Regions from separate parts of the Homo sapiens genome. Here all the other regions are linked to region 3. The links come from fine-mapping of genetic effects on gene expression. A gene starts in region 3. Each other region holds a variant in brackets. All regions are shown on one strand. Distances are from middle to middle.

Evidence for each region. PIP is the estimated chance that this variant, and not a neighbour inherited with it, causes the effect. A credible set is the group of variants that fine-mapping cannot tell apart.
Region 1: its variant is the best candidate, but not a certain one, in a credible set for the expression of GSTK1 in blood mononuclear cells (TOPMed, PIP 0.64).
Region 2: its variant is the best candidate, but not a certain one, in a credible set for the expression of GSTK1 in whole blood (TOPMed, PIP 0.87).

What each region holds. Positions count from the first base shown.
Region 1 is chr7:143,292,959-143,303,230 of GRCh38, forward strand. It overlaps CASP2 (caspase 2), which reads left to right. Exons shown (of 11, transcript NM_032982.4): 5 at 1,272-1,366; 6 at 1,639-1,815; 7 at 6,965-7,093; 8 at 7,246-7,336. It also overlaps the pseudogene RN7SL481P. Among named protein-coding and RNA genes, the nearest start is that of CASP2, 9.7 kb to the left of the region's middle. The variant C/G (reference allele first, on the strand shown) is at 5,968.
Region 2 is chr7:143,219,032-143,229,303 of GRCh38, forward strand. It overlaps TAS2R40 (taste 2 receptor member 40), which reads left to right and starts at 3,006. Exons shown (of 1, transcript NM_176882.2): 1 at 3,006-4,048. The coding sequence starts at 3,048. The coding sequence ends at 4,019. The variant A/G (reference allele first, on the strand shown) is at 6,538.
Region 3 is chr7:143,257,572-143,267,843 of GRCh38, forward strand. It overlaps GSTK1 (glutathione S-transferase kappa 1), which reads left to right and starts at 5,870. Exons shown (of 8, transcript NM_015917.3): 1 at 5,870-6,014; 2 at 6,515-6,596; 3 at 6,977-7,105; 4 at 7,421-7,521; 5 at 7,690-7,725; 6 at 10,046-10,162. The coding sequence starts at 5,943. All of the region lies in intron 2 of TMEM139-AS1 (TMEM139 antisense RNA 1), which reads right to left. LOC105375546 (a long non-coding RNA gene) reads left to right here. Exons shown (of 3, transcript XR_007060569.1): 3 at 5,577-5,636. RefSeq lists a silencer at 5,688-5,757 and enhancers at 5,785-6,079, 5,898-6,117.

The DNA.
Region 1 (10,272 bases), 35 kb after region 3:
CAACACGGTGCCACCGCACTCCAGCCTTGCCAACAGAGTGAGACTCAGTCTCAAAAAATAAAATAAAATAAAATAAAAAGGAGGGGGGTGTCCCAGATTGACTTCCCCTTTCTTGTCTGGTATCTGGCTTTGTCCTAACATGAGCCCTTTTTTTTGTTTTTTTTTTTTTTTGTTGTGTTTTTTTTCAGAAATAGGGTCTTGTTCTGTCACCCAGGCTGGAATGCAGTGACACCACCATAGCTCACTGCAGCGTTGAACTCCTGGGTTGAAGGGCTCCTCCTGCCTCAGCCTCCCAAGTACCTGGGATTACAGGTGCATGCCACCACACCTAGCTCATTTTTAAATTTTTTGTAGAGAAGGAGTCTCACTTTGTTACCCAGGCTGGTGTCAAACTTCTGGCCTCAAATGATCCTTCCGCCTTGGCCTCCCAAAGTGCTGGGATTATAGGCGTAAGCCACCATGCCCAGCTGAGACATAGTTTATATTGGGAACAGTTGTCAGTAAATTTGTTAAGGGCTAGTAGGACAGTTTATGCAGGAGTTTGTGGTTTTTTGTTTTTTTTTTTTCTTGTGATGGAGTCTTGCTCTGTCGTCCAGGCTGTAGTGCAATGGTGCAGTCTCGGCTCACTGCAAACTCTGCCTCCTGGGTTCAAGTGATTCTCCTGCCTCAGCCTCCTGAGTAGCTAGGATTACAGGTGCGTGCCACCATACCCAGCTAATTTTTTGTGTTTTTAGTAAGAGATGGGGTTTCACCATCTCCTGACCTCGTGATCTGCCTGCCTCGGCCTCCCAAAGTGTTGGGATTACAGGCATGAGTCACTGCGCCCGGCCCAGGCAAGGTGTTATTAATAGTTGGTCCATTTCCCTTCCACCCCAGATAACAGTTTTTGTGATAATTGGGCCTTTGAGTAGCATGTATGGGCAGGAAGTTCATGCTCAATTGGCCTCTAAAAAGCTGAATAAGAAAAGACTACATTTGGGGCCACCAGCCTGCTGATGGAGCATCCTAGTGATTGGAACGAGGCTTTTATCAGCTAGCCCATTCGGTCATTCAGCCAGTTGAGCATATGCTTCATGCAGGCTATGTGCAGAGAATCCTTTAGTGAGCTAAAACTAAGAGTCTCTGCCCTCATGAAGCTTACAGGTTTGGGTAGTGAGTGAGACCAATATTTATCACAACCCAGTTGCAAGAGATGTCTGAAGTTACAATGACATATTAAGATTGATGGTTAAGTTATATACTAGTTTTTTGGTTTTCTGTCTATACCACAGATACTGTGGAACACTCCCTAGACAATAAAGATGGTCCTGTCTGCCTTCAGGTGAAGCCTTGCACTCCTGAATTTTATCAAACACACTTCCAGCTGGTGAGTTTTTGCATAATGACAAGAGGAAGAGAGTTGGGAAATTAGACACCCTTCCTGGGAACCTGAACTTAGTTTGCATGTACATTTCCTTTCTGCCTTATTAGTCAGAAAGTTGTTACTGGTTAAATGCCTTCTGTGAGCATTTGTCTATTTTTACCTGCTGGAGGTTAAGAAGAAAAATACGATGTCTTTGTTTTCTTGAAATGTCTAATCTAGCCGAGGAATCATCTGTTATCAAGACGCTCATGGTCTAACTGGCCTCTCCTCCACAGGCATATAGGTTGCAGTCTCGGCCTCGTGGCCTAGCACTGGTGTTGAGCAATGTGCACTTCACTGGAGAGAAAGAACTGGAATTTCGCTCTGGAGGGGATGTGGACCACAGTACTCTAGTCACCCTCTTCAAGCTTTTGGGCTATGACGTCCATGTTCTATGTGACCAGACTGCACAGGTACCTGAGGTGGGAAAAATTGACATGTAAATTAGAGGACTGAACAACACTTTGGGACCAGAGACATCGTTTGTTCCTGTGCCTGCTGGGATATGTCTTAAAAGTTGGTTTATTCTACTTACATTTTTACTCACTCTGTTCTGCCTCTCACCTTGCATTCTAGTAAGAAAGAATTAGGGCCGGCCAGCCATTTTAGTGTTGACATCTCAGGTTGTGGTTTCATAAAGTAATAATAGTCCACAGTTGGTGTCTCACTTTTTTTTTTTTTTTTAAAGACAGAGTTTAGCTCTGTCACCCAGGCTGGAGTGCAATGGCACGATCTCGGCTCACTGCAACCTCTGCCTACCAGGTTCAAGCGATTCTCCTGCCTCAGCTTCCTGAGTAGCTGGAACTGCAGGCGCATGCAACCATACCTGGCTTATTGTTGTATTTTTAGTAGAGACGGGGTTTTGCCATGTTGGCCAGGCTGGTCTCAAACTCCTGACCTCAGGTGATCCGTCCCCCTCGGCCTCCCAAAGTGCTGGGATTATAGGCATGAGCTACGGCACCTGGCTGGGAAAGTATTCTTAACATTTGTGTAATCACAAGTCATAGGGTAGATTGTTTGTGGACCAGATTTCTAGAAATTGTAAACATTTTCATTATGGGCTGTTCGTCATTAACCTCAGTTACTGTACTGCACAACTGACTTTGTGACCTTTAGGGTTTCTATTTTGCAATCAATAATGGCCTATTTGTAGATTCATATTCACTCTTTATTTTGATTCCAGAATAGTAGAACTTTCTTCAACTTGCTTTGAGGTTGTCAGTGGTGAAATTAAAATTGCTAGGAGATTCACTTTGATCTGTTGGGATAGAGGATCTTTGTTTTCCATTCAGCATTGTCTGTAGTCTTCATTTCTCTTTCTTAGCTGCCCTCCTTCTGTGAGAGTAATTATGTATTTACTATATTTTTGGCAAGGCCAGTTTCATCCACAGGTACCTGGGTGTTGTCCTTTACATGCTATTTTTGCCAGCTTCCCCCTTGTAGCATATGCAATGTAGTTAAATCCACCCTTGCTTCAAAGCCATGGCAGCAACAGCTGCTTCAGTCATCAAGTATTCAGGTAGTTTATATGCTTTCCTGAGAAGTCTGCTGGGCATAAAGGGGCAAAGGGCAGGGTACCAGCCATAATTCCTACAGAAGGTCACTTAACAAAATGTGCAGTGTGTGTGTTTTCTTAGAGGTTTTGGTCTAGCCATGTCTTTTACTAGAAATCTATTATGTCATGGTTTTTCAAGTTGTATGCAGCTGATAAAGGATCTTACATGTCTAATAGTTAAAGATAAAATACTGAGTCACTAAGTCAACTATATATACTGCTGTTTTCTCAGAGACTGTCAGATTTGGTGAGTTTATGAGCTCACTTCATAAATAGCATTTCCATTTATGGTAAGCCTGATGCATATTCAGTGACCTATTGGATTCTAATTCTTTGGTTGAATTGCTCTGTAACTGGAATTGCAGTAGAGTTGAACTTCAAGCACCTTATAATGGGGGACTATGTGAGCTGCCACAGATTTTAAAGATCAGATGAGGGAGTTTTGACATCAGCATAAAAGGAAGTGTGTCCTCTTATATTCCTAACGACCAAACAAGATTAGAGAAAAAATCTTCTGTCATAGCTAAGAAGAAGAAGCGCCTAGGTAGATATGATCAGAAGGATAAGTGGAGGAGGCAGAACTTAAGCTGGCCTTGAAGGATAGAAGTTACTGAAGCAGAGAGGAGTGGTGAAGCCACCCTAGGCAGGGAGAACAGTATGTGGACAAGAAATGTGTGTGTTATAAACCAGGTAGTTGCAATGGGTGTCATAATTTGGTACACTGGGCATCTGCACAGAATGCTCTCTTCCTGGTGGGATCTCCCTAGAGAGTCAACTCGTTTATCATATAGCTATTTGGCAAGCAAAGAAACAGAACCAAAAAAAAAAAAAAGATCCTTTTTTCTTTCCCTATCAAATCTTTCTTACTTAAGAGAGGAATTCCATTTAAAAACAGGAAATAGTATAATTAGTCTTAGAGACTCCTCTTCCCCTGATAGTGCTGCAGTGAACATGGGTATTCTCACTGCCCAGATGTTTTCACTTTTCTCTTTGTTATTAAGTTTTTATTGCATCTACTTCATGAGGTTACTAGTTCTAGAATTATGATTTACCCTATGTTAGGAAACGTACTCTTCAAAGTGGAAATTTCCTTTTACCATGTGGTATTGTTTTTTTAGCTTGCATTTGGGTCACAAACTGCTTTGAAAATGTAAGGACAAGCTATGGGTTATCCCTGGAAAATGCAGCTGCCCATATAATTTAGCATATAATTTCAGAGGGTTCACAAGTTACTCTCTTCACATGTCCCCCAACCCCTAGCCAAAAATACACTTAGGAGTTAAGAACCCTGCTATTTATAGAAGTACTGTAATTTTATCAAAAACAAATCTGCAGATCCTATTTTAAGCTATGCTACTTGTAGAAAAATTCCTCCAAATGTCTAATCCCCATTTATTGAATGGTTTAGTCTTACTAAGTTTGGTTACAAAGTGCGTGTATTCTTTTTTTGGACATTGTTTTCTATTTACTGACCTAATCTCACTAAATTCAAAATGCTCGTGATTCGGTGCCCAGGTATATAATTTTTGTTTTCTTTTTTTTTATTTTGAGATGGAGTTTCACTTTTGTTGCCCAGGCTAGAGTGCAATGGCGCGATCTGGGCTCATTGCAACCTCTGCCTCCCAGGTTCAAGCAATTCTCCTGTCTCAGCCTCCTGAGTAGCTGGGATTACAGGCGCATGCCACCACGCCCGGCTAATTTTTGTATTTTTAGTAGAGACAGGGTTTCATCACATTGGTCAGGCTGGTCTCAAACTCCTGACCTCAGGTGATCCACCCGCCTCGGCCTCCCGAAGTGCTGGGATTACAGGCGTGAGCCACCGCGCCCGGCCTTTGTTTTCTTCTTTGAGCAAAATTAACTTCTTTAACTATTAAATGTTAAATTCTATTAGCATCAGCTCCAGAGGAACATTCACAGTTATGTATTCTCTTGAAATTATATATTCTTGAAAGAATTTTTTGATTATCTGTCATTACCTTAAGATTTCTATTATTATGGTTTGCTTCTACTTAGAAAATACAGATACTTTTCAACAACACCAGTCTCTTTATTTCTAGTTATATTGCAGACTTTCAAATATTTTATGTAATTGCATCTCAATTATCTACAAACAGAAGTATTCCGAACAGATCAATTAGTAGCTCTCAAACTTTAACATATCACAGTGTCCTGGAGGGCTTGTTAAAACACATTTTGCTGGAGCCCAAGATTTCACGTTTCTTCCAAGTTCCTGGGTGATGCTGCTGTTGCTGCTTTAGGGGCCACTCTGAGAACTACTGCAATATGTTATATTATAGAAGTGTGCTTTTTATTTTGGCAGTGTGTGTGATTAAATATATGTGTGTTTTAACTCTTCCACCCAGATAACTTACTTATTTTCATTACATTTTATTCAAGTTTATAATAAAATGAACTTGTTTTCTTTCTGCCCATCTCAGAAGACCCAGACATCGTGAATTATAGAGGGAGGCATAGGTTTAAACATGTGTGCCCAATTATTATGCTCTTTAGGTACACAGTATAACCTTCTGATGGATGGACCAAATGCTTAAGGTAGTGCTCTTCATGTATCGCAACTTAGTGCAAGATAAACAAGATTCTCCAGGCATGGTGGCACATGCCTATGGTCCCAGCTACTCTAGAGGCTGAGGCAAGAAGATTCCTTGAGCCCAGGAGTTCTAGGCTGTAGTGTGCTATGCTGATCAGGTGTCCAAACTAAGTTCATCATCAATATGGTAACCTCCTGGGAGTGGCGGACCACCAGGTTGCCTAAGGAGGGGTGTACCAGCCCAGGTCAGAAATGGAGCAGGTGAAAACTCCTGTGCTGATCAGTAGTGATCTTACACCTGTAAATAGTCACTGCACTCAAGCCTGGGCAATATAGCAAGATCCTGTCTAAAAAAAAAAAAGATAAACAGGAAAACAGTTCTTAAGTTGGACTACAACATTGACCAGTAATAGATTTCTTTGAGAAAAATACTCTTTATTCGACATGCACATTGTAATGGCA[C/G]ATTTTTTGCAATGTGTCCCAGACACAGTGATCGGTTTTTGGTTTTTTTTTTGAGACAGGGTCTCTCTCTGTCACCCAGGCTACAGTGCAGTGGTGCAGTCACAGCTCACTGCAGCCTCAACTTCCTAGGCTCCAGTGATCCCTCCACCGTAGCCTTTAGAGTAGCTGGGACTATAAGCATGCACCACCATGCCTGGCTAATTTTTTTTTTTAAAGATGGAGTCTTGCTAGGTTGTCCAGGCCAAGTCCTTTGTCATAATATCTCATTTTTATCTTCACAAACTTAGAGAAAATATCCTCATAATTTTTTTTTATAAAGTGAAAAGTGAGGTCTCAAGGGTCTGAGTAAGCTGTTCCAACTCATGAAGCCAAGGTTCAAACCTAGATTAATCTGAACCCAGGACCTGTGTATGTAATTACTGCCCTGTACAGAATCCTCCTTCATAGCGTGCTCTTTCTGAAACAAAGCATTTTATACAGTCATCATCATTATCTCTTGGACACTTAGAATCTTAGAAGACAACATACAAGTATTGCTATTCTCTACTATCATGATGCTGTCACAGAACAGTTTATTTTCGTGTAGCTGAATGTGCATGTTACTTATTCATAGCTACACTTTGAGTCACCCTTGTGCCATTTATATACAAGGGCAGTTGCTCTAATGAAGGATCTGGTTATGAACAGGGAATTAATCAGAGTTGACCAGCTCATGATTAGCTTCTTTAGTAACTTGCTTTAATCCAGGAGCTGTTTGCCTATCTCAGTGAGTCTGAATCTGTATTCAGAATATTGTGTCTGAACTCATATGCATTTTTCTGGTGAGTCCATAGCTTTCTTTAGTCTCTCAAAAGGTCTCTTCTTTTATCATTGACCACAGGAATATACATAAAGCGTTTTATCTTCTAATAGCTTAGGGTTTCAAAAAGAAACCAAACTTTGATGCTTATGTTGGTGCTGACCTTAGTGCACAACACTAAACATTCCTTTCTTTTAGGAAATGCAAGAGAAACTGCAGAATTTTGCACAGTTACCTGCACACCGAGTCACGGACTCCTGCATCGTGGCACTCCTCTCGCATGGTGTGGAGGGCGCCATCTATGGTGTGGATGGGAAACTGCTCCAGGTGCGGATACCCTGGTGGAAGCCAACTGTTGAAACCAGGCTGCTTTACCTCCTGCCTGCTGTCTGTCAAGTGATGGCTACTGTTGCATGTGTAGGACTTAGGAGGCCCCGCTGAATGCTTAACCTCTCTTCTTCCTTCTTTCTTTCTGGCAGCTCCAAGAGGTTTTTCAGCTCTTTGACAACGCCAACTGCCCAAGCCTACAGAACAAACCAAAAATGTTCTTCATCCAGGCCTGCCGTGGAGGTGAGTGCCCTAGCAGACCAGCACCTGGGTGGTGGCTCCTGGGCAGCCTCCCACCAGCTCTCACTTTCCTGTTTGCTCCTCTCAGGTGCTATTGGATCCCTTGGGCACCTCCTTCTGTTCACTGCTGCCACCGCCTCTCTTGCTCTGTAAGTGTCTCCCAATGCATGGGGTGTGCTGGGACTTGGGCAGCCCATGGCTCTCAGGCTGGTCAGCTCTCCGTGCACCACCATATCCTGTTTTCAGGTCTCTTATCCCGTGTCTTTGCCTTCCTTTCTGAGAACTCTTACTCTTTTCTGTGCTTCATTAACTCTGGTGCCCTTTTTTTGGTTACTCATTCCAGTTACGGATTTTTGATCTGTCTTTTTCCTGTCCTTCTTATTTTATCTCCTTTCTTTCACTCTTTGTTCTTTTCACTTGTTCCATATACTTCCCTGTTTACCTACACTTCCATGCTTGCCTCCTTTCTTCTTTCTTCTTACCATTCTTGGGTCATGCAGGATAGCAGAACAGAATCCGTGTTGGCCTTTGACTCTTCCTTTTCCGTGAGCTGCTGCTGCCCCTCTTTCTCTCATGCAGTCTGTTTTACTCCTTTAAGAGCCAGGACTGCAGGACGAGGATTAAAAGACACATAGGTGTGCTTCTCATCCTGGAGGAAAATAATAGTAATTAAGAGCCCTAACTTTGGAGTCAAATTCTGACTTCACCATTTACTAGTAACGTGAAGTTAAAGAAGTTAAATGGCATCCCTCCATCTCAGTTTCCTCAATATAAAATGAAAATAGTCCTTGTACCTACTTCATAAGGTGCTTGTGATGGTTAAATGAGATTATGCATTTAAGGGCTTACATAGCTCAGTACCTGGCTCACAGCACATCCACAAAATATGCCAGCTGTAACTCTTAAAACACGATCAGTGCCGTAAAGGGCTTATAGTTTGCTTTAAAGGTCACTTTGTCCAAACATTCAAATAATTACTTTTTTAATCTCTCATGTGGCCAAATGTAAATAGCTAATATTATTGTCATCCTGATCTAGTATTACCGCAGAATATAGTCTGCTGAGGCCCTGCAACATGACTCAGACTACGGCAGTTACTACCGCAAAAGCAGAAGGAAATGTGGCCTCTCTAAGGAGCAGACCAGTTACTCAGGAAAATAAAGTAAATATACATGAAGTAGCTTAAGACTAGTTCACAGGCCTCATGTAAGCAAAGGTGAAATTAGCAAGGTACAAACTGTACTTAGGAAGGAGTATGCAGTAAGAGTAGATCATTTTAAGTGAGGGTAGTTTAAAGAGATTTTTTAGATAAGATAAGGCTTAATTTGTACCTGGAGTAATTTGATTTACATAGTTATAGAGTAGTATCTAGAGTCTGTCGTAGGAAAGAAACAATACAATATGATAAGTACACTGAGAGGCAGAGGGCATGTTGTGTCTCCCCTCCTCCCAAACAGATGCTCGGATCTGATTTTAAAATAGCATCTGTGTGAGTATGTGAGATGTGGCTGGTCACAATGAAGTGGGTTCACCTCCTTACAAACCTTTAGTCATAACTGAGGTTTTGGACATCAGCAGGTAAAAGTAAGGAACAGTTGGGAGCTTAAGTAAGAAATAATGTGATGAATTGTTTTTCCAGCAAGGTTGCCATGGAGGGGGCTGCACTAAGGAAAGAGGTTATGGGTCAGCAACTTTACTTTTCATTCCCTGCTCTATCCCCAGGCCCAGGGCACTGCCTGATGCATGGTAGCACTTATAAATGTTCAATGAATGGATGAAAATTAATCTGCCTGAAAAACTGTAGGTATTATGTAAAAAACAAATATGAGGATATTGTGACAAAAGAACCAGTGACATTTATTGATTGATGGATCTGTGATATAAAGGTGAGAGAGGAATTCTCCTTTCTCTTTAGCTTGGCCTGTTTCCTTTAGGCGTCTTTACTAACAAAACGACGTTAAATTGTGATTTTCTCATCCTATATCCAGGGATTTAATACACTATTGGATCTGGATAAGGAGTAATTGCTCTTTTCTGGAGTAATCTGGATCTTTTGCTCTGTCTCTCTAACTTTTCTGAAATTAAATCCTTCAAGGAATGACCAGTAGCCAATTGTTCCATTGAAAATTTGAGTTCACCTGTCTTCCTGCTGTATTTGGTTAATATAATTAATGTCTAGAAAAAGCTCCACCCCCCTGCCCCAGTCAGCTTCTAAACTGGAGTGTAAGCTCCATGACGGCAGGAATTTTCTCTTCACTCTATCCCTAGGCCTTAAAGTAAGACAGTGCCCAACACATGGCAGTTGCTTGACACATTTTTATTAAACCTGTGCTTTGGTCCTTTTCCCCCAATTCTTGAAGCTTCCCTTCTTTCCTAGGCTCCCTCGACATTGCATGGATCAGGAAGTACTGTAAAAGAGCATACTCTTACTTTTGATGTGTTGACCTGAGAGTCCTCCCCATCTGTCTTGCCTACTGACAGCACCCCTGCCCACACCCAAAATAAAACAACATCATCAAAAATAAGAGTCTGTCTTGGGATACATAAGGCTTGTATCAAGAGCAAGGATCTGCTCAGGGTATGTTGAGAAATTACTGCTAAAATTGAATAAGGATGATCTTTTTAAATTTTCTGGGAGAAAACAGTCAAGTTCTCCCCACTTTAAGTTTTTCCTCTTAAAATTTTCATAAGGCCAGGTGCAGTGACTCATGCCTATAATCCCAACACTTTGGGAGGCCGAGGCAGAAGGATCACTTGAAGCCAGGAGTTCAAGACAAGCCTGGTCAACGTAGCAAGACCCCATCTCTATTAAAAAAAGAAAAAAAAAGATTTAAAAAGTTATTTTAAAAAATAAATTAAAAATTTTTTTTCTTAAATCTTGGATGCTTGCTATAATTTATCTTATGAAATTAATAAACATAGTGCTTCGAAGATATCAA
Region 2 (10,272 bases), 39 kb before region 3:
CCGGGTGCAGTAGCTCACGCCTGTAATCCCAGCACTACGGGAGGGCAAGACAGGTGGATCACATGAGGCCAGGAGTTCAAGGCCAGCCTGACCAACACGGTGAAACCCCGTCTCTACTAAAAATACAAAAATAAGCCAGGCATGGTGGCACACACCTGTAATCCCAGCTACTTGGGAGGCTGAGACATGAGAATCGCTTGAACCTGGGAGGGGGAAGTTTCAGTGAGCTGAGATCGTGCCACTGCACTGCAGCCTGGGTGACAGAGCAAGACCCTGTCTCCAAAAATAAAAATAAAAAAAGAACTTCTCTAAAGTAGAGATGATGCCTCCATTCTAGCTCTCCAAATGATAAAATATGGAATAAAAATGAATTGGCCCCACATAGCTATAAATGTGGCACTGTGAGTGCCTTGGAGTTGTCAGCCCAGACTGCCAGCTTGCATTGAGCCTCAGCAATAGTCCCACACCCCAATGGCTGATCCCCTCCCTGCTCCTCTTGCCTGAGCCTCTGGGGCTGCAGGCAGACCCTGCCCAAGATCTCCTTCTGTTCCCACCTCTTAAAATCAGAGAAAAACATGAATGAAGACCAATAGAAAACAGTACCAGAACAATGGAAGTCAACGATTGTGTGCCAGAAATTTGGGGAGATATCATTTATTACAAACTTGCATATGTTGGGACAAAATAAACCAAAAAGTGAGTTTGATGCTTTGGAATACGTGAAAGCTGCTGACAAATACTACTGTCCTCAATTAAGAGAACTAACCAAAGTTAATGAGTCTCTTACAGGAGATGCAGAACCTGCCAACAAATCTCGTTTCCAGTTCTGACTATTATGAATAAAGCTGCTGTGAGCATTTTTGTACAAATCTCCGTGTTGACATAAGTTTTAATTTCCCTAAATAATGCTTTCTTAATTTTGAAATATATTGCTTTGCCTGGTGCTTATTTCTATACAAATAATAAATCTCTACTTCCTTATTTAATTAATTTATTTATTTTTGAGACACGGTCTGGCTCTGTCACCCAGGCTGGAGTGCAGTAGCTCCATCTCAGCTCACTGAGACCTCCGCCTCCCAGGCTCAAGGATCCTCCCACCTCAGCCTCTCGAGTAGTTGAGACCACAGGTGCATGCCACCATGCCCAGATAATTTTTTGTATTTTTGGTAGAGAAGGGGTTTCACTATGTTGCCCAGCCTGACCTCAAACCCCTGAGCTCAAGCAATCCTCCTCCTCAGCCTCCCAAAGTGCTAGGATTGCGGGCATGAGCCACTGCGCCCAGCCAACTTCCTTATTTTAAATAAAATTAATTTGGGGTGGGGAAACCCATTTTTATCATTCATCAATTTATATTATTAAAAAATATAATGGACCAAGGCCCAAAATATAATGGACCAAGGTGTGAAGGATGGTAGCTCACACCTATAGTCCCAGTATTTTCGGAGGCTGAGATGGGAGGATTGCTTGAGCCCAAGAATTCAAGATCAGCCTAGCCAACATGGCGAAACTCTGTCTCTACAAAAAATACAAAACTTAGCCAGGTGTGTTGGCATGCATCTGTAGTCCCAGCTACTCAGGTGGCTGAAGTGTGGGGATCACCTGAGCTATGGAGGTCAAGGCTGCAGTGAGCCATGATTACACCACTGCACTCCAGCCTGGGTGATAGAGTGAGACCCAGTCTCAAAAAGAAAAATAATCAAATAAAAATAACAGGGTAAGCACACTGGAAAATGATAACTGGCACTCAGCTTCTGTGTCAAGAAGACACTAGGAATTAGTATTGTCAACAAACTGAAAAGTATATACCTTGTTTAAAATGGGCAGCCATTACTCAGCTTCAGCCAGTTCACTATGAAGACCCAATACTGCCAAATCTTCTAATTTTTCAAGAGAAGATAGATTTTTTGTGCATGCATATAAGTAATCTCCTAAGTTTAAATGTTTGCCAATAGAACCCCTCAAAAAGAAAAGTTACACACTGGTGGATTAATGCTGTACAGCATTAACCAATGCAAGGTAAAATGACTACAGGCCAAATCTGACCCAAGGCTCATTGGTTTCCAGCTAAGATTTTGGATCTCAATCCTGACTATGAGCAACAAGACCTTTCGGCTTTTTTAAAAGATAGCATGCCTGAGCCCTAGTCCAGTTCTGATTTCCTAGATTTGGACGAGTCCTGGGCATCTACATATTCTTGTAAAGTGCCAGAGTTCATTCTGGTTCACAGCCAGGGTTAAAAAGTAGGAAATTAAATTTCAAGTCATAGTACCTTATCACATTTCCAAACTTCAACACCATGTCCAGAACACTGAATTCTCCCCAGGCTCATTCTACCTGATTCTGAGCTCAAATAGTCATGTGGGATCTCAGTAAGCTGAAATTGATGACACATACACAAACAATAAAAACTGGGACTATGGAGACTTCCTTCTCTCCAACTCGAATAGCATCCAATTTTGGCTTTTCTATATACTATTCGAGGACATTATAATAGCAGGCCTTTTTGGAAGAAACTCAATTCTAAGTAAAAGATGTTCATATATGAGCTTATGGGAATTTCTTATTCACAAACATGGTAACTATCAAAATAAAACTCTCTCCCAAAATAAGAGAGACAAGAAAAGAAGTGGGGAAAACAGATTTTAAAAGCTGTATGAGCTTTTACAAATAATTTAGCAGGTAACAGAGATCTTGTGAGACAAGTAAAAAGGCCTTGTATTCATTGCTTATCAGGTAAATGTGGACTTAAAGTAAATAAGGTAAGAAGGTGTTGAGCTAGAAACATGTCTCAAATTATTTCCAGTGAGCTTCTGAAAGCCCAAGACAAATGTATCTTTATGAAAAATTGAGACAGACCCAGTAACCAGATCCTCTCATTATTTGCATGTGAAGCCTCTAACTTGTAGTCATGTGATAAACAAATGGAGAAAAATTGGAAATAACCATTAATGAGGGCGGCAGAAATTATAACATTGAGCAAGGGTCAGAAGATTGCAGAGCAGTTACCCATTCTTGGCGCAGAAACCTGAAAGTCAGGATCAAAGAGAATGGCAACGGTGAACACAGATGCCACAGATAAAGACATATCCAAGTTCAAGGTCACCTTCACTTTGGTGGTCTCCGGAATAGAGTGCATCACTGGCATCCTTGGGAGTGGCTTCATCACGGCCATCTATGGGGCTGAGTGGGCCAGGGGCAAAACACTCCCCACTGGTGACCGCATTATGTTGATGCTGAGCTTTTCCAGGCTCTTGCTACAGATTTGGATGATGCTGGAGAACATTTTCAGTCTGCTATTCCGAATTGTTTATAACCAAAACTCAGTGTATATCCTCTTCAAAGTCATCACTGTCTTTCTGAACCATTCCAATCTCTGGTTTGCTGCCTGGCTCAAAGTCTTCTATTGTCTTAGAATTGCAAACTTCAATCATCCTTTGTTCTTCCTGATGAAGAGGAAAATCATAGTGCTGATGCCTTGGCTTCTCAGGCTGTCAGTGTTGGTTTCCTTAAGCTTCAGCTTTCCTCTCTCGAGAGATGTCTTCAATGTGTATGTGAATAGCTCCATTCCTATCCCCTCCTCCAACTCCACGGAGAAGAAGTACTTCTCTGAGACCAATATGGTCAACCTGGTATTTTTCTATAACATGGGGATCTTCGTTCCTCTGATCATGTTCATCCTGGCAGCCACCCTGCTGATCCTCTCTCTCAAGAGACACACCCTACACATGGGAAGCAATGCCACAGGGTCCAGGGACCCCAGCATGAAGGCTCACATAGGGGCCATCAAAGCCACCAGCTACTTTCTCATCCTCTACATTTTCAATGCAATTGCTCTATTTCTTTCCACGTCCAACATCTTTGACACTTACAGTTCCTGGAATATTTTGTGCAAGATCATCATGGCTGCCTACCCTGCCGGCCACTCAGTACAACTGATCTTGGGCAACCCTGGGCTGAGAAGAGCCTGGAAGCGGTTTCAGCACCAAGTTCCTCTTTACCTAAAAGGGCAGACTCTGTGACTGGAACTCACGGAGTTCTGCGGGACCTGGTCCAACCACTTCTGCCTTTGCCTCAGGTAGAACTCTCTCCTCACCCGTCTCTTCTCTCCCAAACCTGCTCTGACACTTCTCAGATAACGTGATCCTTTTATAAATATGAAGCTGAATTTTTAACTTGAGATTCTAAACAGAAGTAACTAAGAAACCTGAAGATGGACTTTGAAAGCTCCTTGAACTATGTTCATTCATATCCTGCCCTGAGATCTCTCCACTTTCTTCTCCTCCTGAGCCTTAAGGAGAGGGTGGCCAGACATATCGGTTTGCCAGGGACAATCTCTGTTTATTGTCTGTTGTCAATTGAGCATCCTTTAATTCTCAAGAATATCATGGTCTGGATGAAGAATTACATGATCATCCTACTTAAGACACCCAACTAACACACAGTTAGGGCTGGTGAAGCAGAGCACAGCACTCAGTCCACGGGGTAGAAGGGAAACCAGAGTGGCTACAGAAAAAGAAGATTCAGGAAAGAAAGGCTGCTGGAAATTATCAAGTGCTGCAGAGTTCCGAGGAAAGTAAAGGGTGAAGAAAAAGGCTCTGGATTTGACTAAAAGGATGCCATGTGTGCCATTAGTGGAGTGATAGGGTGACATCCTGATCCCAGGAGTTCCAGAAGATAATGCCAAAAGGGAGGGGATGGGTAAAAACCAATAGTCTAGAGAGGATGTTTGCAGATAAAGATGAGTTATAGAACGGCAGATGGATATGTGAAGGGTCAGTTCAATGCTTTATTTCTCCAAATGGGAGGGGACAAAGTGAGCAGAGAGGAAAGAAAGAATGCAGGGAAAAGAGTGAAGTGGGCAGGAAGCAGAAAGAGAAAAGGAAGAGGCCAGAGTAAGTAAGCGTCTGTTTTGCTCAGCTCCTGACTCTGTGGCAATGCTAGCGGCACCTGTGCCTCTGGTTTTACCAGTTCTGGGTTACCTTGAAGTAAATAGTGGGGCAAGAGCGGGTTACTTGGGGCAGGCTGCTGGAGAAGAGGAAAAACATTATTCTCCATTGTCATTGTTCAGGATGGTTCCAGCAGCATTGTCTCAAAGAGCTGTTCACAAAACATTGGACACCCTCTCCCCAGATATCTTAGAGCTTGAACGTTAGGAATCTGAAGTTGTCTTTTATTAGGTAAGTTTTAAATCATGATTATTGAGGAAAATGAAAAAAGAATGCTGTGGATCATACCAAGCTTAGGTAGCCCCCAAATGAAAATATGAGGTCAGTAGCAAAGTCTAGTTCTGAGCTCCAGCGCTCTCAAGCACACATTTCAGAGAGAGTTCCTTACATCCATAAACTGCAAAAACCACACACACACACGGCATACACACAGACACATGGCATACACACACACACACACACACACACACACACAGATTCCTTTATAGCTCAGACAGCTTGGGACTTATTTACCTGAAAAGTAAAATATTAATAAAACACACATTTTTGATAGTTTTCTTAAGCTATAGTTATTTATATGACTATTTCAGGCGGTATTTGTTATAGTAAGACAAATTAGATATTGAAGTTTTATTCCAGTCCCTAGAATAGAGAAATATACATTTTCTTCCAAGTTATATATATTGATAAAAGGGTCATGTACCCACTAAGGGTTCTCTGATGCATTACAGAGTTAGAGAGAAAATTGATTTAAAGTTGCCATTATATTAACATGAACCATGTCAAGACCACAAAGTGGATAACTCCATACTTACTATGAAGAAATATCATCTCATTGCTAGCAAGAGCCTAAGGCAGCACATAGCTAACAAAAGCTCCAAGGATGATAACATCCTTATCGATGCACATGTTGGCCTGCCTTCAACGAGATAAAATTCTCTCCAATTCTCTTTCTTCTGTATGTAAAACCCAAGTAAGCACTCAGAAAGACCCAGAATACCTAGTCTTCAAGTTGTCTGGCTTTAGACAGCAATCAGAAGTCCTAAATGAAGACAATAATCGACTCTGCTGGACAAAAGTCTGTAACCAAATGCAAAGCCCGGCTTGCTGTGGTCTCAATATTATTACAGGTTTTCACCTTGCAAACTCTACATCATCTCCCTCGCCCCACAGCCCTGCGGGATGTTGAAAGTGATAGAGTGAAGGATTCCTTTACCCACAAAGTCACTCTGAATATTCATCTAGCATGTGGAGCAGGTAAGGGGACTTTGGTTAGCAATGGATTCCAGTCTGGCAGGCCCAGCCCAGAGGCAGGGTATCTGGCTTCTTTCCTCATACCTGGTCGAGTCCTTGCAAATAAAGGCTAGACTGGCAGCCATGGCCAGTCTAAGGGCTATGACTTTATGGGCACCAGATTGTCCCACAATCCAGTATCATCTTCCCCTTCCAACTACTTCGGTGTCTGCTAAAATTCCACTGTGGTTCTGGCTTTTCTTTGCTTTTATTCTACAGGAAATCTGTTATTCTCTCAGGCATTCTTTACTTGGGGCAGCAGGGAAGAAACATCTATGTAATAAAAAGAAAAGAAACT[A/G]TAAGTCCAACCAGTCTAAAATGTCTTGTGCTGGGGGAGGGGAGCAGAAACCAAGGGCTAACTAATTATGTCTTGTTGGAGACAGGGCAACTTGTGCATTAGGAAAGATCATGGAAGGAAAGAAAAAAAAGACACCGAGAGAGGAAGCCTTCCCATCTGTCTTACGTTTTCTCCCTCTCCTCTGGAGACAAGGAATATATATATAGTTTTCTTTTTTTTTTTTTTTTGAGACGGAGTCTCGCTCTGTCGCCCAGGCTGGAGTGCAGTGGTGCCATCTTGGCTCACTGCAACCTCCGACTCCCTGGTTTAAGCGATTCTCCTGCCTCAGCCTCCTGAGTAGCTGGGATTACAGGCATGTGCCACCACACCCAGCTAATTTTTTTATTTTTAGTAGAGATGGGGTTTCACCATGTTGGCCAAGATGGTCTTGATCTCCTGACCTTGTGATCTGCCCGCCTCAGCCTCCCAAAGTGCTGGGATTACAGGCATAAGCCACCGCACCCAGCCAAGAAAAATCTTTAGAAGAGAGGTAAGAGGAGGAAATTTCTTATGTACTCAGAAAGATTTGTTTGGGGGAGAAAGAGGAGGACAGAACGGCTAAAAAGCCAGTCTGTAATGTTTGAAGGCTGGGGGAACTCTCTGTACCCTTTTCTAAATGGGGGAAGCGTTGCCTAAAATAGGAGAGGCAAAACTTTCAGGGAAATGCTCAAATCAAGTGTATGCTGGGAAGAGGTAACATGTTACACTGCTACAAGTTTCTGTTGACAGGAGGAAGATGGAAGCATTTTGGAGCCTGTGACATGGCCCAGGAAGGGCAGGCCTGGGCGGAAAATGGGAGCAGACAGCAGAAAATGGGTGGTGTGAAGGGCTGGGGCAGTGGGAACCTAAAGGGGAAGATGTGGAGGTGTTGAGTGCTGAGTTAATCTTGGCCACTCTCAGTTGGGAGAAGCTCTTAACTGACAATTCTGCCTAGGCCTGTGGGGATTACCCTGTAAGCAGCAAAACAAAGTTTTCCAAGAGCTTTGAAGAGGAGCATTTCTGGGTTGGACTCTTCCCTCCCAGTGTGGTATTGCAAAGGTGCTCTGTGTCTGTGGCGCTAGCCCATCAAACAACGTCAGTAGGAAGAATACAGATTTGTAAAAAATTTTCCTGGTTTGTCTCTCATTTGGTTTTTCTTATTTTTTTTAGCAAAGTGTCTTATGAATGTTCTACCCTCTTTCAGTTGCATCAAGAAGAAAATAAGAGAAAAGTGGTTTTGAAGATAGCCCAAGAAAGAAAAGTACCAGCCACCCCCTAGGTTTAGTATGGCAGCAGTAGCAGGAGGGGATCCAAGGCAGGGTGGAGCATTAACAGAAAAACCTGCATCCCCTCAACTTCCACACCCCCGCCCGTGCAGTTCCCAGAGTCGTGAGACTGGGTTTGGGTCCTGGCTCTGCCACTTACTGGTGTGCAAATGGGCATGTTATTGCATCTCTCTGAACCTCAGTGTCCACATCTGTAAAATGGGAACAATAATGGGAAATACCAGCCTCCTAGGGTTATCTCATCCTAAGAGAAGAATGGGGTAAAGTGTTTAGCACACAGCATCTGACCCAGAGTAAGCCATCAATAGATGTTAGCTGTTAGTATTCCAAAGGGAAGTGGAGTGACACTGAGAGGCATCTAGAATGAGGATATTTAAAGCAGGCCAGATATGAAAAGGACAGACCAGACTGGGCCAGATGCACACAGAAGGCTTAGCCTTTATAGTCCCACAGGCTTGGTGGCAGAACATGGCCATGGATCCAGTAGTTCAGTCATCCAAGTGGCAGGTGAAAAGTGTAGGGTGGCCTTAAGAATTGGATTCCTGTTCACTTCCTGACAATGTCAGAAATGAAAGACATCTAGTATTCCACAGTTTAGCTGCCCGACAGTTATCTGAGTGTAGATTTGAACCTAACAGGCACTAGGTTAGGGGTCAGCAAACTTTTTCTGTAAAGGACCAGAGAGTAAATATTTTAGGATTTGTGGGCCACATGCAGTCCCTTCCAGAAGAATTCAACTCTTCTGTTGCAGCACAAAAGCCACCATGGTGATTCAAAAAATAAATAAATGGACATGGGTGTGCTCCAGCAAAATTTTGTTTATGGACACTGACATTTGAATATCATATAATTTTCACGTGTCATGAAATATTATTCTTCTTTTAATGTTTTCAACCATTAAAAATGCATTTTTAATAAATGCCTCTTGCATTTTTAAATGGTTAAAAAATTAATATTTCATGATGTGACATTTTGTTGGAGCACAGCCATGTCCATTCTTTCCCAGCTGTGCACTCTTGGAGGGTGAAATTTTTGCTTAGTTGATCTCGTGGGCCATACAAAACAAAAAGAATCAGTGGGTCAGATTTGCCCCCAGGCTGCAGTTGCAGACCCTTCACTCAGGCATGTTCTCCTACCCCTGAAGGCACAGCATTCCCCAGGACCCAGTCACACTTCATTGCAAAACCAGGGATACTTATTGTGGCAACTTTTGCCATGTTATTTTTTCTTTCTTTTTTTTTTTTTATTATACCTTAAGTTCTGGAATACATGTGCAGAATGTGCAGGTTTGTTACATGGGTATACATGTGCCATGGTGGTTTGCTGCACCCATCAACACATCGTCTACATTAGGTATTTCTCCTTATGCTATCCCTCCACCAGCCCCCCACCCCGCAACAGGCCCCAGTGTGTGATGTTCTCCTCCCTGTGTCCATGTGTTCTCACTGTTCAACTTCCACTTATGAGTGAGAACATGCGGTGTTTGGTTTTCCGTTCCTGTGTTAGTTTGCTGAGAATGATGGTTTCCAGCTTCATCCATGTCCCTGCAAAGGACATGAACTCATCCTTTTTTATGAATTTTTGCCATGTTTTGAACGTGGCAACTTCCCCAATATTTTTGCCACTTTCAATTTCTCCAGCTTTTCTCTGTCCCTGTGCAATCTTTAAAATAGAGTCCACTAGCTCTTTGTAAAAAAATAAAATAAAAAAATAAACAGAAAGCTAATGTTCTAGTCCCCTGTCTCCCACCTGCTAAGGATAGACACGGAGCCCAAATTTTGTTTCTCCTTAAGGCTTTGAAAGCTATTGCCCTGAAGCTACTCACTTGATAACAATGAGTTTGAAATAGTCATGCCTCTACAAACCATCTCTGTTGAGGTTGAACACTAGGCTTTCTGAGTGCTTTCTCCTTGTGAATTTGATCCAGCAGGGCAATGTTTGTATTTTTGTGTTCTTTTAGATGACTAAGCAACAGGCTGGTTTATTGAATAATGATGGGAAATGTGGTGTATAGAAAGAATCTACATTCGGTGTCAAAGATCTAGACTTCAGTCTCCATTCTGTGTGATCTTGGGAAAGTCACTAAACCTTTCTGAGCCTCAGTCTCCCCATCTGGAAAGCAGAAATAATCATAACATCCGCTACACATGGTTGCTATGAGACTCAAATAAAATATGTCTATAATAAATTGTAAACCACGATATGAAGATAAGTGCATTCATTCATTCAACAAAAATGTATTTCTTAATGCATTTTTAGTAAATAAAGATCAACTCAACAAAAATTTTACCCTCCAAGAGTACACAGGCTAGAAAAGAATACTGGATTAAATTATAATGTGAAAAATTCCTGAGTAGTCATCTATGTACTGTGGAGTCAGGAATGTACCCTAAACCTCAAATGTGCACAATTAAAACGCCTATCCTCTAAA
Region 3 (10,272 bases):
TTATATCTAAATTCTTAAAACTGCTGGATCAAAGGGTACATCTGTAAAACAGAAGACATCATTAAACTGCCCTCTGCAGACGCTGTACCAATTTACACTCCCACCGGTTAAATAAAAGAATGGTTTTCCATGACTCCGTACCAACACTGAGTCATCAAACTTTATGAGTTTTGTCAACTCGATAGACAAAAGCATATCACAGGGTAGTTTTAACTGACAATTATCATAAGTATACAAAGTGTCTTCAAATGTTTAGTATTTGCAAGCCATCTATATGTCCATTTTCATGTATGTTCTCTTCATCTTCCCATTTTTTCCACTGGGCTTCTGTTTTTTTTAATGTATTGATTTTTAGCTCTTTCTACAGTAGAATAATTAAAATTAGCTTTTTGACTATGAAATAAGCACAGATATTTTTCCCAGTTATGTTTTTGACTCATTGGATTTTGCCAAGCAGATTTTTAAAAATTTGATATAATTAAATGCATCGATCTTTTAAGGTTTCTGCATTGGTATTACAGTTAGCAAGGCTATTTCTATTCTCAGCTGTTTTAAAAGTTTCTCCATAAGTTCTTGAGGCACTTTATTGGCTTCCTCTTTATAACATTTAGATATTTGATCCATTTAGAGGTGTTCCATGTGTAAGTTGTGAGGTATGGATCTAAATACATTTTTGGGCCAGGCGCAGTGGCTCACACCTGTAATCCCAGCATTTTGGGGGTCCAAGGCAGGCGGAGCAAGAGGTCAGGAGTTCGAGACCAACCTGACTACCATGGTGAAACCCTGTCTTTACTAAAAAATACAAAAATTAGCTGGGCATGGTGGCACACGCCTGTAATCCCAGCTACTCAGGAGGCTAAGGCAGGAGCATCGCTTGAACCCAGGAGGTGGAGGTTGCAGTGAGCCGAGATCGTGCCACTGCACTCCAGACTGGGTGACAGAGCGAGACTCCTCACAAAAAAACAAAAACAAACAAACAAACAAAAACAAAAAAAAAAACCTCTCAGTTGTCCCAATATCATTTATTGAATAGTCAATTTTTTATTTATTTGAAAAGGCAACTTAAAGCATTTCCAGTATCAATTATTTAATTCCAAATGACATGATTAAAGCGCTATTTACTGAGCTTTCAAATGTAGATAATACCATTGGCTCATCTACGAAAGATGAGAATTTGGATCGCATACACCACCTCTCCTCTGCCTCCTCCAATGTTTGATAATTATATCATGTTTTGTTCCTCTACTTAGTGCTTTTCCCACTTCAAATAACTTACTTATACCACTATTTCTTGTTTCAATAGCTCTAATCAGTATCTAGAGTAAAATTAAGTAAGCAGGAGGCTATTGACCTGAGACAGTCTCCATGCTTTGAATTCCTATGAAACAAAATGCAACCTAACTTAGTATGTAAACAAACTGAAACTTAACTTAGGAGTTTCATTTTTATAACAGATAACCAGGTCTTTGCCAATCACAAGCAGCCAAGCTTCAGCTAAGTGCAAGCAGCCAACGGACTGGCTCATGTCTAAATCAAGCAAAACACTTAGCTGCAACAAATCAAACTATTTATGTACTTTACCTTCCTGTTCTGCTTATAAATACTCATTGCTTACAGTTGCAGAGCTCTCGGAACCTCTTCTGGTTCTGAGTACTGCCTGATTCAAGAATCATTCTTTACTCAAATAAACTCCATTAAATTTAAATTGTCTGAGGTTTTTCTTTTAACACTAAATACCCCTCTCAGCAATAGGAAGATGATAGCCCATAGAAGTGAATATATTTTTCTTTTTGTTGTCTCTACTCCATTTTATCCACAACAGGGCCCAACCTAAAAATAATAATAATAACAACAGTAATAGTATGTGGAGATAGACTGTAAGGACTCAGATCAATGTTTTATTATTCTGTGATTCTTAAAGTAAATATACATGAGTCCATACTGATATAAATAACTGACTGAATAAATAAATAAATAGAAAGAAGGGACAACTCTCCTGTCAAAAGAATTCCAATTAATAAATGAAAAAAACTAAGGAAATAGAGAATCACCATTAGAACACCACAGTAACAACTGCTGCAGGCAAGATCCACTGATGAATAATAAAACTGATGGGTGACAGTTTAGGGAGCAACTGGATATTTGCATAGCCTCAAAGTATCTCCCCCAAATATTTATTAGTTACCATGGTAGTGTTAACGTATATCCACAACTTCTTTAATATTCTTCCCTCCAGTGGATGGACTTAATCTACTCAACCCTCACTCCCAGGATGGGCTGCACTTACTGACTCCCTTCCAAAAACTAGGGTTTGGATAGGGAAAAATGGTGACTTTACAGTGCAGAAATTTTCCAGTTGCTCCGCCTTAACCAGGTGACCAAGGTAAACACCACCAGTGATGAGTCATGTTGATATCCCTGTACCTCATGACATGATTCAAGAAGGGCACCTTACCTCTGTGGTAATCTTCCCAAAAGTCCACAACCTTAGTCTTACTCTGAGGAAATATCAGACAAACCCAAATGAAGGGACATGCCACAAAATAGCTGATCAATACTCTTCACAAGTGTCAAAGTCATGAAACACTAGAAAAGGCCAAGAAACTCTCATAGATATGGGAAGAATAAAGAGACATGACAACAAAATTCTGTATGTATGCTGGACTGGATCCTGGAACAGAAAAAGAACACTAATGAAAAAACTGGTGAAATCTGAGCAAAACCTGCAGTTCAGTTAATAGTAACGTACCAGGCTGGGCACAGTGGCTCATGCCAGCACTTTGGGAGGCTGAGGCAGGGGGATCACGAGATCAGGAGTTGGAAACCAGCCTGTCCAATATGGTGAAACCCCGTCTCTACTAAAAAATACAAAAAATTAGCTGAGCGTGGTGGCACACGCCTGTAGTCCCAGCTACTTGGGAGACTGAGGCAGAAGAATCGCTTGAACCTGGGAGCCGGAGGTCGCAGTGAGCCAAGATTGCGCCACTGCACTCCGGCCTGGGTAACAGAGTGAGACTCCAGCTCAAAAAAAAAAAAAAAAGTAATGTACCAATGTTAATGTATTGGTTTTTATCATTATCATACTTATGTAAGATTTTCACATTAGGTAAAGCTGGATGAGGGGTATTCAGAAACCTTGTACTATCTTTACAAGTCTTCTATAAATCTAAAACATTTCCAAATATAAAAAGCTTTTTAAAATAAGTGATTGATCTACCTTTGAAATGAAACCTTAAATTACCACGCTGAATTAGCTCTTGGACACTTTAAAATTATGATTACTGGAGAAAAACAAAAATGTAGCTGGGCATGGTGGCTCATGCCTGTAATCCCAGCAGTTTGGGAGGCCGAGGTGGGAGGATCACTTGAGCCCAGGAATTCAAGACCAGACTGGGAAGCATGGTGAAACCCCACCTCGACAAAAAACAAAAATTAGCTGGGTGTGGTGACATACACCTGTAGTCCCTGCTACTCAGGAGGCCAAGGTGGGAGAATTGCTTGAGCTTGGGGGGCAGAGGTTGCAGTGAGCCAAAATTGAACCACTGCACTTCAGTCTGAGCGAGAGTGAGATCATGTCTCAAAAAAAACAAGGTGGGCTGTGGTGGCTCACATTTGTAATCCCAGCACTTTGGAAGGCCAAAATGGGTGGATCACCTGAGGTCAGGAGTTCAAGACCAGGCTGGCCAACATAGTGAAAGCCCATCTCTACCAAAAACACACAAAAAATTAGCTGGGCGTGGTGGTGGGCACCTGTAATCCCAGCTACTTGGGAGGCTGAGGCAGAGAGAATTGCTTGAACCCAGGAGGCAGAGGTTGCAGTGAGCTGCAATTGTGCTACTGCACTCCAGCCTGGGCAACAGAACAAGACTCCATCTCAAAAAAAAAAAAAGTTTAGTTTCAGTGGTTGTTGAACAATTAGTTTACTCTGCAAGTAGGTAATGATAACATCATTTTTCATTCCATTTTGCATGCTCTTCTCCATGTAGGGGTTTACCTCGTATCTCTGTATTCTGATAGCCTGGAGTTGTTTTCCTTATTGATACAAATGAAAAGTGGAATCTTTATATGTTTTCCAATTTATTAAATTAGTAATGTTAAAAATAATTTTAACAAAGTTAAATGGAATTATTTTAAAATTCTGTTTCTTTGCAGTAAATGTAATCCCAATATAAGACAATATGACTCACATATTTGTGAAAACGAATAGGGCCAATCGTTTCCATTATCACCAAAATTATCTATAGTGAGGCCTCTCCATCTTCTACCAGTCCCTCTTTTTTTTCACTCACTCAAAATATATGTATCGATGGTCAAATGTGTCCCAGACATTGTGCAAATCTCTGACAAAGGTAACACAAGAAAATGTGTACTCTGAGAACTTCTTATTCTGCCCCAGTTTAGGAGATTCATGCAACTGCCAAGCAACAATAATAAGAGCTAGCAGTTATTGGAGTACCTCATTCCTCACAACTCGTCATAAGGCAGGTGTTATCATTAGATATTCCCCATGTGTATGCAGGATGAGGAAATAGGTTCAGAGAGGTCAAGTGGCTCACCCAAGGGGCACAGCTAAGTGAAAGGCACTGCAGGCATCTCAAACTACCCCCTTCCCACAAGACTCCACTGCAGAGCAGGACAGTCACCCTGACACCAGCCCAATGGGTTCATCTTGCCCATTACCCAGATGGGGCTAATTTATCAAGACAAGGGAATTGCAATAGAGAAAGAGTTTAATACACATAGAGCCAGCTAAACAGGAGACCAGAGTTTTATTATTACTCAAATTAGCCTCCCAAAATTCGGAGGCAGAGGCTAGGGGACTTTGTGGGTTTTTTTGTTTTTGTTTTTGTTTTTCTTTTGAGAGGGAGTCTTGCTATGTCACCCAGGCTGGAGTGCAGTGGCATGATCTCGGCTCACTGCAACCTCTGCCTCCCGGATTCAAGCAATTCTCCTGACTCAGCCCCCCGAGTAACTGGGATTACAGGCACATGCCACCATGCCCGGCTAATTTTTGCATTTTTAGTAGAGACAGGGTTTCACCATGTGGGCCAGAGTGGTCTTGAACTCCTGACCTCAAGTGATCCACCCACCTCAGCCTCCCAAAGTGCTGGGATTACAGGCGTGAGCCACCATGCCCGCCGGCTAGAGTTTTTTAATGATAGTTTGATGGGCAAGGGGCTAGAGAATGGGTGCTGCTAATTGGTTGGGGATGCAATCACAGGGGTGTGGAAAACCGTCCTCAGTGCACCGAGTTGCATTTGGATGCGGGCCACAGAGGAGTCACTGGTCCAGGTGGAGTCATCCTGTCATTAGAAATGGAAAAGTCTGAGAAGGTATCTTCAAAGGCCAGTCTTAGGTTCTACAAAAGTGGTTATTTACAGGAATAATTGGGGAAGTTGCAGAGCTTGTGACCTCTGGAACAATGTCTGGTAATTGTTAATGCCTACATCTTAGCAGAATTCAGGCCCCTCTCATAATCCTAAACTTGTGGACTTTTATTAGTTTTATAAAACTGGTTTAGTTTGGGGAAGGGCTATTATCATTTAAACTATAAACTAAATTTCTCCCTATATTAGCTCGTCCCATGCTCAGGAATGACCAAGGGCAGTTTGGAGGTTAAAGGCACGATGGAGTTGGTGAGTTCAGATCTGTTTCACCTTCGTAATTTTCTCACTGTTAAAATTTTTGCAAAGGCGATTGCAGCGCCCCTTGTCCACACCTGCGCGCTCCCCAAGGGGTCCCTACCCACCCCGCCCCTGGCTGGGGGCCGTAGGCTGGCCCTGCCCCGCTGCGCCGGAGGTGGACCTCTACCAGGGCAGTTTCTCTCTGAGGCTGCGCGCTAAGGCGGTGGGCGGTCCCAGGCAGGCCCAGAAGCTGGGCAGCCTCTGCCGGGTTCCGGGAAAAGGAGCTCCTGCTGCCACTGCTCTTCCGGAGCCTGCAGCATGGGGCCCCTGCCGCGCACCGTGGAGCTCTTCTATGACGTGCTGTCCCCCTACTCCTGGCTGGGCTTCGAGGTGACGCTGGGAGGGGTCGCCTCGGCAGTGTCTGGGGAGTGAGGGCGGAGGGAAGAGTGAGCGCAGGGCTCCGGGACAGAGGTCTCGTGTAACTCCTGGCGCCGCCCAAGGGGTTAAGGCAAGCAGGGAGAGCTCCGGGGCTGAAGGTCACTTTGTGCTTTTAAACGGAATAGAGTCGCTGGCTCCAACCCGAGCCTTTATATCCCGACTGCAGTTTCCCACGGTGGTGGAAAGAGGGGCGGCTCCAAACATTCAGGGAGAAATGCAGAACACGGCCACCTCTTAGCCCAACGATGGCAGTTTTGGGGAAAACTGGCCACAGGAGCGAAGATCCTGGAATAGATTTCTAGTAGTGAGGAGAGTTTTGCCAATTTCAAACCAAACAATGTAGGGTGTCCGCATAACCCCTGCTCTGCACTTAGCGCCTCCCTTCCCTTTCCCTCGGCTCTTTCACTTTTCCATCTTGCACACTGGCAATCGTTCTTGACCTCTGCCCGCAGATCCTGTGCCGGTATCAGAATATCTGGAACATCAACCTGCAGTTGCGGCCCAGCCTCATAACAGGGATCATGAAAGACAGTGGTAGGAAGGGAGGGTCGGGGCAGGGGTGATCTCAGTGGCCCAAGAGAGCCGACCCCAGCGGGTCCTTATATTGGCACTGGCAGCCAGAAAGCTGCCCTCTGCCCCGTCTCTACTAAAAATACAAAATTAGCCGGGCGTGGTAGTGCATGCCTGTATACCACAGCTACTCGGGAGGCTGAGGCGGGAGAATCGCTTGAACCCAGGAGGCGGAGGTTGCGGTGAGCTGAGATCGCACCATTGCACTCCAGCCTGGGCAACAAGAGCGAAACAACAAGAGAAAAAAAAGGAAGCTGCCCTCTGCCCAAAACCCACGTCGAGGTCCCCAAACCTGGGACCCTTAGGTCTTTTCTCACTTAGCGTGCCCAACCTTCTCCTGGCAGGAAACAAGCCTCCAGGTCTGCTTCCCCGCAAAGGACTATACATGGCAAATGACTTAAAGCTCCTGAGACACCATCTCCAGATTCCCATCCACTTCCCCAAGGATTTCTTGTCTGTGATGCTTGAAAAAGGTGAAGAGAGTGGGATGTAGACAGGGTATCCAGTGAAAAACACAGAAGTCGGAGATTGAGGGATTGATAGGATGGAGGGGCTGCGGGAGACTAAAGCAAGTGAAGCCTGCCTTGGGAAACCTCAGGATCAGCCTTGAGCGAGCTGAAGGTTGCCGGGCATGAAAGGGAAGAAGAGCAGGCAAATAGGTCATGGGAACCTTGGGTGAGAGGCTGAGGGCGGAGGAGCTCTGGGGGATGTCAGAAGCAAGGAAGAGCTAGTCCTCCACCAGGAAAGCAGCAAGAGGAGCCCTGCCTCTGGGTGCCTCTGCCCCACAGGAAGTTTGTCTGCCATGCGTTTCCTCACCGCCGTGAACTTGGAGCATCCAGAGATGCTGGAGAAAGCGTCCCGGGAGCTGTGGATGCGCGTCTGGTCAAGGGTGAGTGTGGGGCTCTGGGAATCCTCTGGGAGGACCTTGGATGACTTTCTGACCTTCCCCAGGCACGTTTTCAGGGTCATGATCCTGCCCCCGCCCGGGGGATCTACTGTCCTCCCAGTCACACCCCTCTCCCCGCACCGCCTTCCTGCTGTCTTCTCTTCTTCCCAGAATGAAGACATCACCGAGCCGCAGAGCATCCTGGCGGTGAGTGTCCTGGCTCCACCCCAACTGCACTCATAGAGAATCTGAGAACAGTTGGCGTTTGGGGGTAAAGAAGACAATAGGTCTCTTATTGCATGGAAAAGGTTATAATTACTGGGGAAGAAAGGATGTCTGTGATTCAGGGCACAAACTACTGAAAAGTTGGAACTAAGGATCCTCAAAAGGATATCTCAAGGTTGAAAGGGGAAGTGCAAAAGGGACAATATATGGGAAGAATTTATTTGCTGAAAGATGTCAGTGAGAGAAAGATGCTCAGTGTTGGAACCCCTGGATGGGGAGGGATATAGTATTCACAAGTCTCCACAAACTCCAACACAAACCTCACCAACACATCCAGAGTGGAAGGCAGGAGACTTGTTCCAAGAGGCTTTAAAAAGACGAAAAGAGATAACTAATGCCAGGGTTATATAGGAGCCTGAGTGAGAACAAATGGAAATAGCTCAAAACATTGACCAGTGAGCCATGGATGGGGGTATAAAAGTAAGTTTGTCTTCAGGATTAAATTAGGAAATTCAAAACAGTATTATTCCTCTGGTTTACAAAAAAAAATAGTTGAGACCTATTCAAATTTAATATATAAAGTGGCAAATCACACAAAAGTTAAACGTATAAGGAATGGCAAATATATCTTCTACAGTCTATACTCCTGCAAAGTACATGTGTAATTTTTAGCTTGCTTTTTTACTTCATATTTAATCATTTTCCATGCTTTTTTTTTTTTTTTTTTTTTTTTTGAGACACGGTCTGGCTCTGTCGCCCAGGCTGGAGTGCAGTGGTGTGACCTCGACCCACTGTACCCTTTGCCTCCTGGACTCAAGCAATCTTCCCACCTCAGTCTCCTGAGTAGCTGGGACTACAGGCACACACTACCATGTCTGGCTAACTTTTTTATTTTTTGTAGAGAAGGGGTTTCACTGTGTTGCCCAGGCTGGTCTCAAACTCCTGTGCTCAAGAGATCTGTCTGCCTCCACCTCCCAAAGTGCTGTGTTTACAGGAATGAGCCACTGTGCCCAGCCTCCATGGAATTCTTAACTCTGAAAGTATAGTTCTTTGTTTCTATAGAGGTTCCACTGAGTGGACTTATTTTTGTTTTGCTTAACCATTTTTCTGTGGTTAAACATTTTGTGTAGGACATAATTCTCTAATTTAACCAAGTCAAAGATAGTGTCTCATTAGGACAGGCTACATGAATTCCTGGGTCCCACTTCTGATCTAGGAAGTCAAGTTGCAGTGGTTGTCAATCTTGGCTGTGAATTAAAATCACCTGGAGCACCTTGGCGCTAACCCTTTCCCCTGGAATTGTGATGTAATTGTTCTTGTTCTTTTTTTTCTTTCTTTCTTTTTTTTTTTTTTTTTTTTTTTTTTGAGACAGTGTCTTGCTTTGTCACCCAGGCTGGGGTGCAGTGGCATGATCATGGCTCACTGCAGACTCAACCTCTTGGGCTCAAGTGATCTCGCATCTCAGCCTTACGAGTAGCTGGGACTTCAAGCATGTGCCACCATGCCTAATTTTTTAAAAATTTTTTGTAGAGATGGGGGTTTCACTTTGCTGCCCAGGCTGGTCTCGAACTCCTGGGCTGAAGCAATCTCCTGCCTCAGTCTCCCAAAGTGCTAGAATTACAGGCATGAGCCACAGTGCTTGGATCTAGTTCTAAGGGATGACCTCACGTGGAGATTTTTTAAAGCTCCTCAGGAGTTTCAGATGGGCAGCCAAAGTTAAGAACCATCTATCCCAAACTATACCAACAAACCACAAACTGAAGCCTTTATCTTTGTCTTGAAGCCAGGTAGGTGGCTGCAGCCATGTGCCTTGTTACAAAGTTCTCAGGAAGTTCCACTGGAATTACAGCCTAGCTCTTGATTCAAAAAAAGCATGAGATACTTAGGAACTGTGAGAGGTAGGAAGGAAAGAGCCCTGGACTTGAATTCTAGAGACCTGGATTCTAGTGTTGGCTCTGCTACCAACATGCTCTGTAACTCTGAGCAAGTAATGTATCACCTCTGGATTCAGGCTCTTCATTTGTGAAATAAAGAGGTCTATCTAGCTGCTCTCTAAGATGTCCGCTGGTGTTAATTTCTGTGATTGACTCTGTGCCATCTACCTTTTCTCCTTTTCCACCCATCTCAAGATTTGGGATAAAGGAAATAGTTCCTCTTGGCAAGGACAGATCTCCACTTGTGGGTGGGTAAGGGCATTGCCAGCAAAACTTGGGGGCAGAAAATAAAAAGACCAGAGTTTTCCTCTGAGATCCCCATCCAATATCATGCAGACACAGTTGTATTCCCTACTATATTCCCTTAGGCTGCAGAGAAGGCTGGTATGTCTGCAGAACAAGCCCAGGGACTTCTGGAAAAGATCGCAACGCCAAAGGTGAAGAACCAGCTCAAGGAGACCACTGAGGCAGCCTGCAGATACGGAGTGAGCAGCTCTTTATGTGTGTTCCCAGCACCCATCCTGAAGATGGAGACTTGAGAATCTCTAAGTTTGAGTCCTTATGCTCCTGTACAAAAGCCCCCTTTCCAAGTGTT